2 linked regions of the Homo sapiens genome follow. The protein of the gene in region 2 purifies or fractionates together with the protein of the main gene of each other region. This does not show direct contact. Each region holds a gene or a part of one and is shown on either strand. Other genes may lie near its edges.

Region 1 (3,815 bases), on a different chromosome or scaffold from region 2:
GCATGCATTAGCTATTCTTCCTAATGCTCTCCCTGCCCCTGCCCCCCCAACAGACCCCAGCATGTGTGTTTTGTTGTTTTTTGTTTTTGAGATGGAGTTTTGCTCTTGTTATCCAGGCTGGAGTGCAATGGCGCGATCTCAGCTCACCACAACCTCTGCCTCCTGGGTTCAAGTGATTCTCCTGCCTCAGCCTCCCAAGTAGCTGGGATTACAGGCATGCGCTACCACGCCCGGCCAATTTTGTCTTTTTAGTAGAGACGGGGGTTTCTCCATGTTGGTCAGGGGCTGGTCTCAAACTCCCAACCTCAGGTGATCCACCCACCTCGGCCTCCCAAAGTGCTGGGATTACAAGTGTGAGCTACTGCACCTGGCCCCAGTATGTGTTGTTCTCCGCATGTATCCATGTGTTCTCATCATTCTACTTCCACTTACAAGCAAGAACATGAGGTGTTTGGTTTTCTGTTCCTGCCTTAGTTTGCTGAGGATAATGGCTACAAGCTCCATCATGTCCCTGCAAAGAACATGATCTCGTTCCTTTTTATGGCTGCATAGTATTTCATGGTACATATGTACCACATTTTCTTTATCTAGTCTATCATCGACTGGCATTTAGGTTGATTCCACGTCTTTGCTAATGTGAATAGTGCTGCAATGAACATACGTGTGCATGTATCTTTATAACAGAATGATTTATATTCCTTTGGGTATATACCCAGTAATGGGATTGCTCAGTCAAATGGTATTCCTGCTTCTAGATCTTTGAGGAATCACCACACTCTCTTCCACAATGGTTGAACTAATTTACAATCCCATCAACAATGTAAAAGCCTTCCTTTTTCTCTGCATCCTCACCAGCATCTGTTGTTTCTTGACTTTTTAATAATCACCATTCTCACTGATGCTGTCCTATTTTTTAATCAAATTACTGAGCTTCATGCTATTTTTGGTCAAAGCCAAAAACTAATATGATGGTTCAAATTTCTAACACATACTGAGTTCCTGAAATTATTAATATCACACATAAGAATTTACATGGTCACTAAATTTGTATCATACAGAAAACTACTACAGACCAGACTTTATAAGAAAAACTTATGTGCAAAAAGACTAGAGGGCTCTATGCATGTGTACAATAAATCTTTTGGCCATGTTCACAGGGCCACTGACTTTCTTAACTAATTACCTTATAGTTGCCATACACCTAAGGAGTAAAAAATAATAAGCATTCTGAAAATATGACATTTGAGTTTCATTTTATCCTTAAAATTGCTCTCCTCAGTTTGCAAGAGCTTTAACTTGACCCAGTATCTATTATACGTAATGATATTTTCCATCTCTAAAATGTCATCAATGGAGTGAAGAGATGTGTCTGGGTGCACATGTATGCATGCATACAAAGAATCTATTAAGCTAATTTCAAAGACAGATTTTTATAAAATATGTTAGTGAGGATCAATAACAAATATATTTGTTTAATAACCTCTTCATGTTACTAAGTGCAGAAATTTCCTTTTCACTTACTTCCACTGCTGCTACAACCTGGGATATTTTCTGCAGAATATCCCATGAAGCCTCCATTCCCATTAGGATTAGAAGGTACTGATGCCAGAAGACCTAAAGGACAAAAAAATTTTCTTTTAAATTATGATCAAGATAAAATTCAAAGATAAGTACATAAACAGCTGCCAAAGAAACAAAGACAGTTCTTAACATACCTAGTCCTCTATATCGTGAAAGCTGCTGATAGATCTGTTTCATCCTTTCGATATTCAAACGGCTTGCCTCAGCATGGTTCACCATTGGTTTAGGATAATTAACTCCTATCAAACATTTGGCTACCTTTTGGATACCTTCTGGTGCATTCCAGGGATCATAGATATATTTTGCAGGGAAGCCTCTTAGGACAGGCAAATAACGCCTTTGGGAGAAAAAAGAAAGATTACTAATAAAATGCACTCTAAGCAAACTATAACTACTAGCTATGACAGACCAAAATCAAATCAAGACCATTTAAATGATCTGTTTACCCTTCTCATCTCTGCTGCCCATCATGAGTGGGGAATACTTTAAGCATTGATTAAACATGAAAAGCTCTTCTTGAATTAACTATTCCAAACTGAGTAGTAATCACCCTTGATTTACCTGATATAGTCTCCATTGGGATCTGTTCTCCTACCAAAACCAACAGGGCAATAGCAGTGAAAAAACTGTTGAAAAAAGGAACTACAAGACAGCCACATCCAACTTCCAGCATTTATGCTCCAATCTGCATCAAGCAATAATTCTTCAAATACCTTCAGAAGTAACAGTAACCAATTAGTTTGCACACACATAATTCGCAAAGCAAGCATTTTCAAGGTCACAGTAGAGCCAAAGTCAAGGCAAAGAAAATCTAGCACAGAATTGTAAAATTAAACATTCCAAAGTTAGCTTCCCTATGTTCTGTTCTATAATGAGCTCTTCCAGAGAAAGAAACATAGTGGTAATATAGTATGCTTCTGAAGAGAATTTACTTTTCCAACCTCTGCAGTGTTACTGGGAGAATGGAAGGTAAAAAAAATATTCAAATCACTGATTTAAAAGGATGTGGATTTAAAAGGATATTATTAGTAGACACAGGAAAAGCAGTCAACCACTTTCAAGAAAGCAAAAATGCTATTACATAAAACACCAACAAAAACTTAGCTTCATATTCTAGCCTAAATAAAGGAAGCATACTCAAATATAAATTCACTTAAAAATATATACTAGCATTACATAGTTTAATTTCGAATTCCTTGATCAGAAAGAAAATAGAATTAAAATAAATGATTTTTATATATATTCATTAAGTATGTTATATATTGTCTTTGTATACAACGGTGTACTAGGAAATATAAGAGATTAAACACACACACACACACACACACACACACACACAAGCTCAGAAATGGTCCTTGGATGGGGCAAATGTATGGTATTGCCAGAAAGGTAAAAAATGTACGTAATGGCCGGGCACGGTGGCTCATGCGTGTAATCCCAGCACTTTGGGAGGCTGAGGCAGGGGGATCATTTGAGGTCAGGAGTTCAAGACCAGCCTGGGCAATATGGTAAAACCCTCTCTCTACTAAAAATGCAAAATTAGCTGGGCACAGTGGTGGGCACCTGTAATCCCAGCTACTCGGGAGGTTGAGGCAGGAGAATCACTTGAACCTGGAAGGCGTAGGTTGCAGTGAGCTGAGATCACGTCATTGCACCCCGGCCTGGGCTACAGAGTGAGAGACTCCGTCTCAAAAAAAAAAAAAAAAAAAAAGTACCTAAGTCTTATTACGTGTAATCCACAAGATGTCGTCACAAAATGTAGTATGCTTCTCTTTACATAATAGAAGTATTACTAAAAAGCTGAGAAGTGAGGTGAAATGATTTATATTTTAAAATTTATAATATGAATTCACTATCTCTAGGAACTCTTTAGTGAATTCTTTTCGTGATAGAAATATCACCTATAAATATATCTATCAACAAATTCAGTGTTAAATTTTACAGTTCTCTTAGTGGCTAGGCTGGTTTAACCATTAAAATGACTTTAGGTTAATCAATTTAACCAGTTTTCACCTTTTTGCTTGTCTGATTATACCATTTTTCTCTGAAAGTGTCCCCGTATTTGGGGAATTAAATGTTTTATCCACTGAAAAACTACACCATAAATGAATCTATAAACAGACAACTTCTAGGATTTGTTTTATTAAGGTAAGGATTCCTTCAAAATAAGGCATGCTATATCAGTTAGAACACTTACCTTCATTCCTTCTTCCCAACTAATCCACAGGTCCCCT
Region 2 (3,815 bases):
ATGGGCTTCTTGCTGGGGGCCTCAGTGCTGTCCGCTAAAGCACCTACTGTGTGCCCAGCCGAGCTGCCCCTGAGCACAGCCCTTGTCTGGCTGTCAGAGGTGAGCAGCAAACACTGGTGTCCCTCCTGTCAGGAGTCCAAGGGGCAAGAGGCCACGGAGGGCTTCAGGCAACACCTGGGCGAGCCCAGCGGCTCCTCTGACACTGCAGACACCTGCACCTCCCTGGTCCCCAGAACCCCCAATCCAGAAATCAGCCCGGGACGTATGGCCACTGTCCCAGGCTCTTCCTCCCACTCCCCACTGGGCAGGGATGGGAAGGCCCCGGCCTGGGGAGGTGGTGGTGGCAGGAACCAGAGGAAACCACATAAACCAAAGGGGAACCTTGTGGTTAGGACAAAGATCTGTGTTTCTATAAAAACGAAAAACAAGACTCATCCCCAGAAGTCCTGGGTGGGCCATGCTGCAGCCTTCCCCGTGACACTCTCCTTGGGCCAGGGCCCCGGCAGAGGCACCCAGCTCCTCACCTGACAGCAGACCCGGCCACCCTCGGTGCCCTGAGCTGGGCCTGATAAAGCCAAAGCCCAAAGCTGGTCGGCTACAGGGAGTGCAGAATCAGAGGACTGGAGCACATCCAGGGGGTGACCGCCTGCCCGGTGTAGACTTGGGCCGGGCGTCAGGTGAGGTGGGGGCAGGCCAGGCTCGGGCTTACCTGTTGGTGTGTGTGCAGATGAGCACCTTGGTTTCAGGCCTCCGGATGACCTCCAGGGAGGCCATGGCCAGCGTGTAGGTCTTGCCGGTGCCAAAGGGGCCATAGATGAGTAGCGGGGGGACACGCCTCCCATCCCCAGGGCCCCAGCCCGCGATGAGCGCCACGGCCAGCTCCTGCTTGCGGTTGCCACGCCGCAAGGGTGGGACAGACCAAGGTCTGGGCAGGGCGCAGGTGGGCAAGTCGGGCACCACCAGCTGCTCCTCAGGCAGTGTGTCCACTGCCTGGTGCCAGAGGCGGAAGGTCATCGGGTCAATCTGGAACTGCACCTCCAGGACCAGGCGGGCCTCAGGCTGCAGCCCCAGGGCCAAGCAGCAGCGGGCCGGAAGCAGCAGCCACAGCGCCTGCTCTGAGCTGGCCCGCCTCTCCAGCCGCACCTCGAACACCGTATTGTCGGGTGCAGGTACAGGGGCCACCAGGGCTGTGCTGACCGCCCGGCCCAGCAGGAAGCCCTGGTCTGTGTCTGGCATCAGGGAGGAGGGGACGGGGACCTCTGCGTACAGTGCTCCCGGAGGCGCGAAGAGCATGTTCAGCGCTGGCGTCTGCAATGCCGTCTTCAGGAACACCTGGCCCCGCAGGGTCAGCCTGGCAGGATGGCCTGGGTCAGCTCATGGGGCCACAGCTGCCAGCCCCGCTGCCAAGTCCACGCCCCCATCCGCTCCCGTTGCCCCAGCCGCTCCCATTGCCCCAGCTGCTCCTGCTACCCCAGCTGCTCCTGTTGCCCCCAGCTCACTTGGCCACCAGCTGCTGCTGAGCCGCCTCCTCCTCATAGAGAAACTGGTGCATCCTCTGCCGATAGTTGGTTGGTGAGATGGGGCCCGAGGCCACGCTGCTGCGGTTGAACTCCAGGGCCAGGGCAGGGCCCTTGTACTTGGCCATCAGGGCCGTCTGCTCGGCCGTCCGCTCCACGCCAGGCACCACGTGGCGGTTGCCAGTGTGCCAGCGCTCCATCTCCTCAGGGTGGCCGAGCGCCAGATTCCTGCAGGGTCCTGGGCGACGCCCCTGGCCCAGCTGCAGCCCCAGCTTTTGTAGCAGCACCGGCCGGCGGCCAAAGTCGAAGACCACCCATTGCTCAAAGGTGCCGAACGAGGCAGCCTGCACACGCACTCCCACCTGGAAGTCGGCAGTGGAGCTGGGCACACGGAAGCGCTCACCCCGTGCGTAGAGCCGGCCTGGCGGGAGGCCGGGAGCCACCAGAGAGAAGTCGGCTCCTGGCTCCTGCTTCAGCAGGGCCACGTGTAGCAGGGGCTCCTGGAGAGGAGGCCAGACGGTGAGGGGGGCCCAGGGCTCCCCCCAACCCTCCCGAGAGGCAGCCTGGCCAGCGTAGCCCAAGTGCAGGGTTCAGGTCCTGGCCCTGCCACTTCCTGGATAGAACGCAAGCAGGCCACCCGGCCTCTGCCATCCTCAGTTTCTTCCTGTGCTACATGGGGGTGGCTGAACCCTCCTGGGGCCCCTGTGGATGTCCCGTGGGGCAGTGTGGGCAGCTTGAGGCCTCACCACCCACTCTCCAGGTGCCAGACCCTGGTGAATCCTTGTTTTTGTTTTGGTTTTTGAGACGGAGTTTCACTCTTGTCGCCAGGCTGGAGTGCAATGGCGCGATCTCAACTCACTACAACCTCCGCCTCCTGGGTTCAAGTGATTTTCCTGCCTCAGCCTCCCGAGTAGATGGGATCACAGGCACCCACCACCATGCCTGGCTAATTTTTTTTTTTTTTTTTTTTTTTCAGTAGAGACGGAGTTTCACCCTATTGGCCAGGCTGATCTCGAACTCCCGACCTCAGGTGATCCACCTGCCTCGGTCTCCCAAAGTGCTGGGATTACAGGCGTGAACCACCGCACCTGGCCAAATCCTTGTTTTAACCCATATACTCCATAGAATAACCCTGCCAAGGTGGGACTGTCCTGGCCCCCTGTCTCTAGGTGAGGAGACTGAGGCAGAGAGGCTAAGGGACCTGCTGCAGGTCACGCAGGTGCTGAGCGGCAGTGCCTCGGTATTAGCTCCATGACCCAGGCTGTTGACGTCTGCCCGGGCTGAAGTCACCACTTCCCCAGGGCTCCCTCCGCCCAGTCGGAGCTGTTCTCCGCTCACCTCAGAGTGGACGGCAAACGTCCAGCTGTACTGGGTCTTCCTCTCCTGGGCCTGGTACATCAGGGGCTGGTTGCAGGTGACACGCACTCCATCAAGGGTCTCTGCCAGCTGCGTGGAAGTCTAGCCTTCAGCAAGAGGCCTGGACCCCACCCCACCCCACCCACTCCCAGGGCCCACTTACCACAAGGACCTCACTGCTGCTGCGCTGGTACTCGGCCAGCAGCCGCTCCTGGTAGGGCACCAGCCCGTCCTGCCAGGCCGCCTGCCCCCGCAGCTCCACAGCCTGCGTGCGCCGGACCCACTCCTGCAGCTCCTGTGCTGAGTGTGCCTTGGTGCAGGCGTCCCCATACTCACAGAGGTCAGGCCTGGGGGACAGGGAGGTCAGCAGGGCTACACAGAGGCACAGCCGCCGTGCTGAGTTCAAAGGCCGGGACCCCTCAGCCCAATACTGGCCTCTGTAGGGAGCAGGGGCTTTATTCGTCCCACCCACTCCTGTGCTCCCGGGACAAGGCCTGGCTCAAGCAGTTCCCAAACATGAACCTCCCTTATCCGGGTCCTCAGAGGCCACATGGCTTTAGCCCTCAGCAGGTGGCAGGGAGGCCCCCGTCCACTGAACCTGGGAGCCTCTGGCTCTGCCTACGGTGGGCTCCTGCCCCGCTCCAAGCTCCTGGGAACCTCTGGCTCTGCCTACGGTGGGCTCCTGCCCCGCTCCAAGCTCCTGGGAGCCTCTGGCTCTGCCTGTGGTGGGCTCCTGCCCCGCTCCAAGCTCCTGGGAACCTCTGGCTCTGCCTGTGGTGGGCTCCTGCCCCGCTCCAAGCTCCTGGGAGCCTCTGGCTCTGCCTGTGGTGGGCTCCTGCCCCGCTCCAAGCTCCTGGGAACCTCTGGCTCTGCCTACGGTGGGCTCCTGCCCCGCTCCAAGCTCCTGGGAACCTCTGGCTCTGCCTACGGTGGGCTCCTGCC

Evidence for each region.
Region 1: the proteins of HELZ2 (region 2) and CRY1 purify together in Homo sapiens (co-immunoprecipitation; one large-scale study listed by IntAct). This does not show direct contact.

Annotation. Positions count from the first base shown.
Region 1 is NC_000012.12:106,995,773-106,999,587, forward strand, and holds part of CRY1 (cryptochrome-1), read right to left. Parts: coding exon 3,779-3,815; intron 2,295-3,778; coding exon 2,143-2,294; intron 1,919-2,142; coding exon 1,716-1,918; intron 1,615-1,715; coding exon 1,522-1,614; intron 1-1,521.
Region 2 is NC_000020.11:63,567,649-63,571,463, forward strand, and holds part of HELZ2 (3'-5' exoribonuclease HELZ2), read right to left. Parts: intron 3,221-3,815; coding exon 3,037-3,220; intron 2,964-3,036; coding exon 2,856-2,963; intron 2,018-2,855; coding exon 1,500-2,017; intron 1,352-1,499; coding exon 710-1,351; intron 107-709; exon of another isoform or gene 3-106; coding exon of another isoform or gene 1-2. UniProt on the Homo sapiens protein: Can degrade highly structured RNAs through its concerted ATP-dependent RNA helicase and 3' to 5' exoribonuclease activities. Shows a strong preference for pyrimidine over purine residues for its nuclease activity.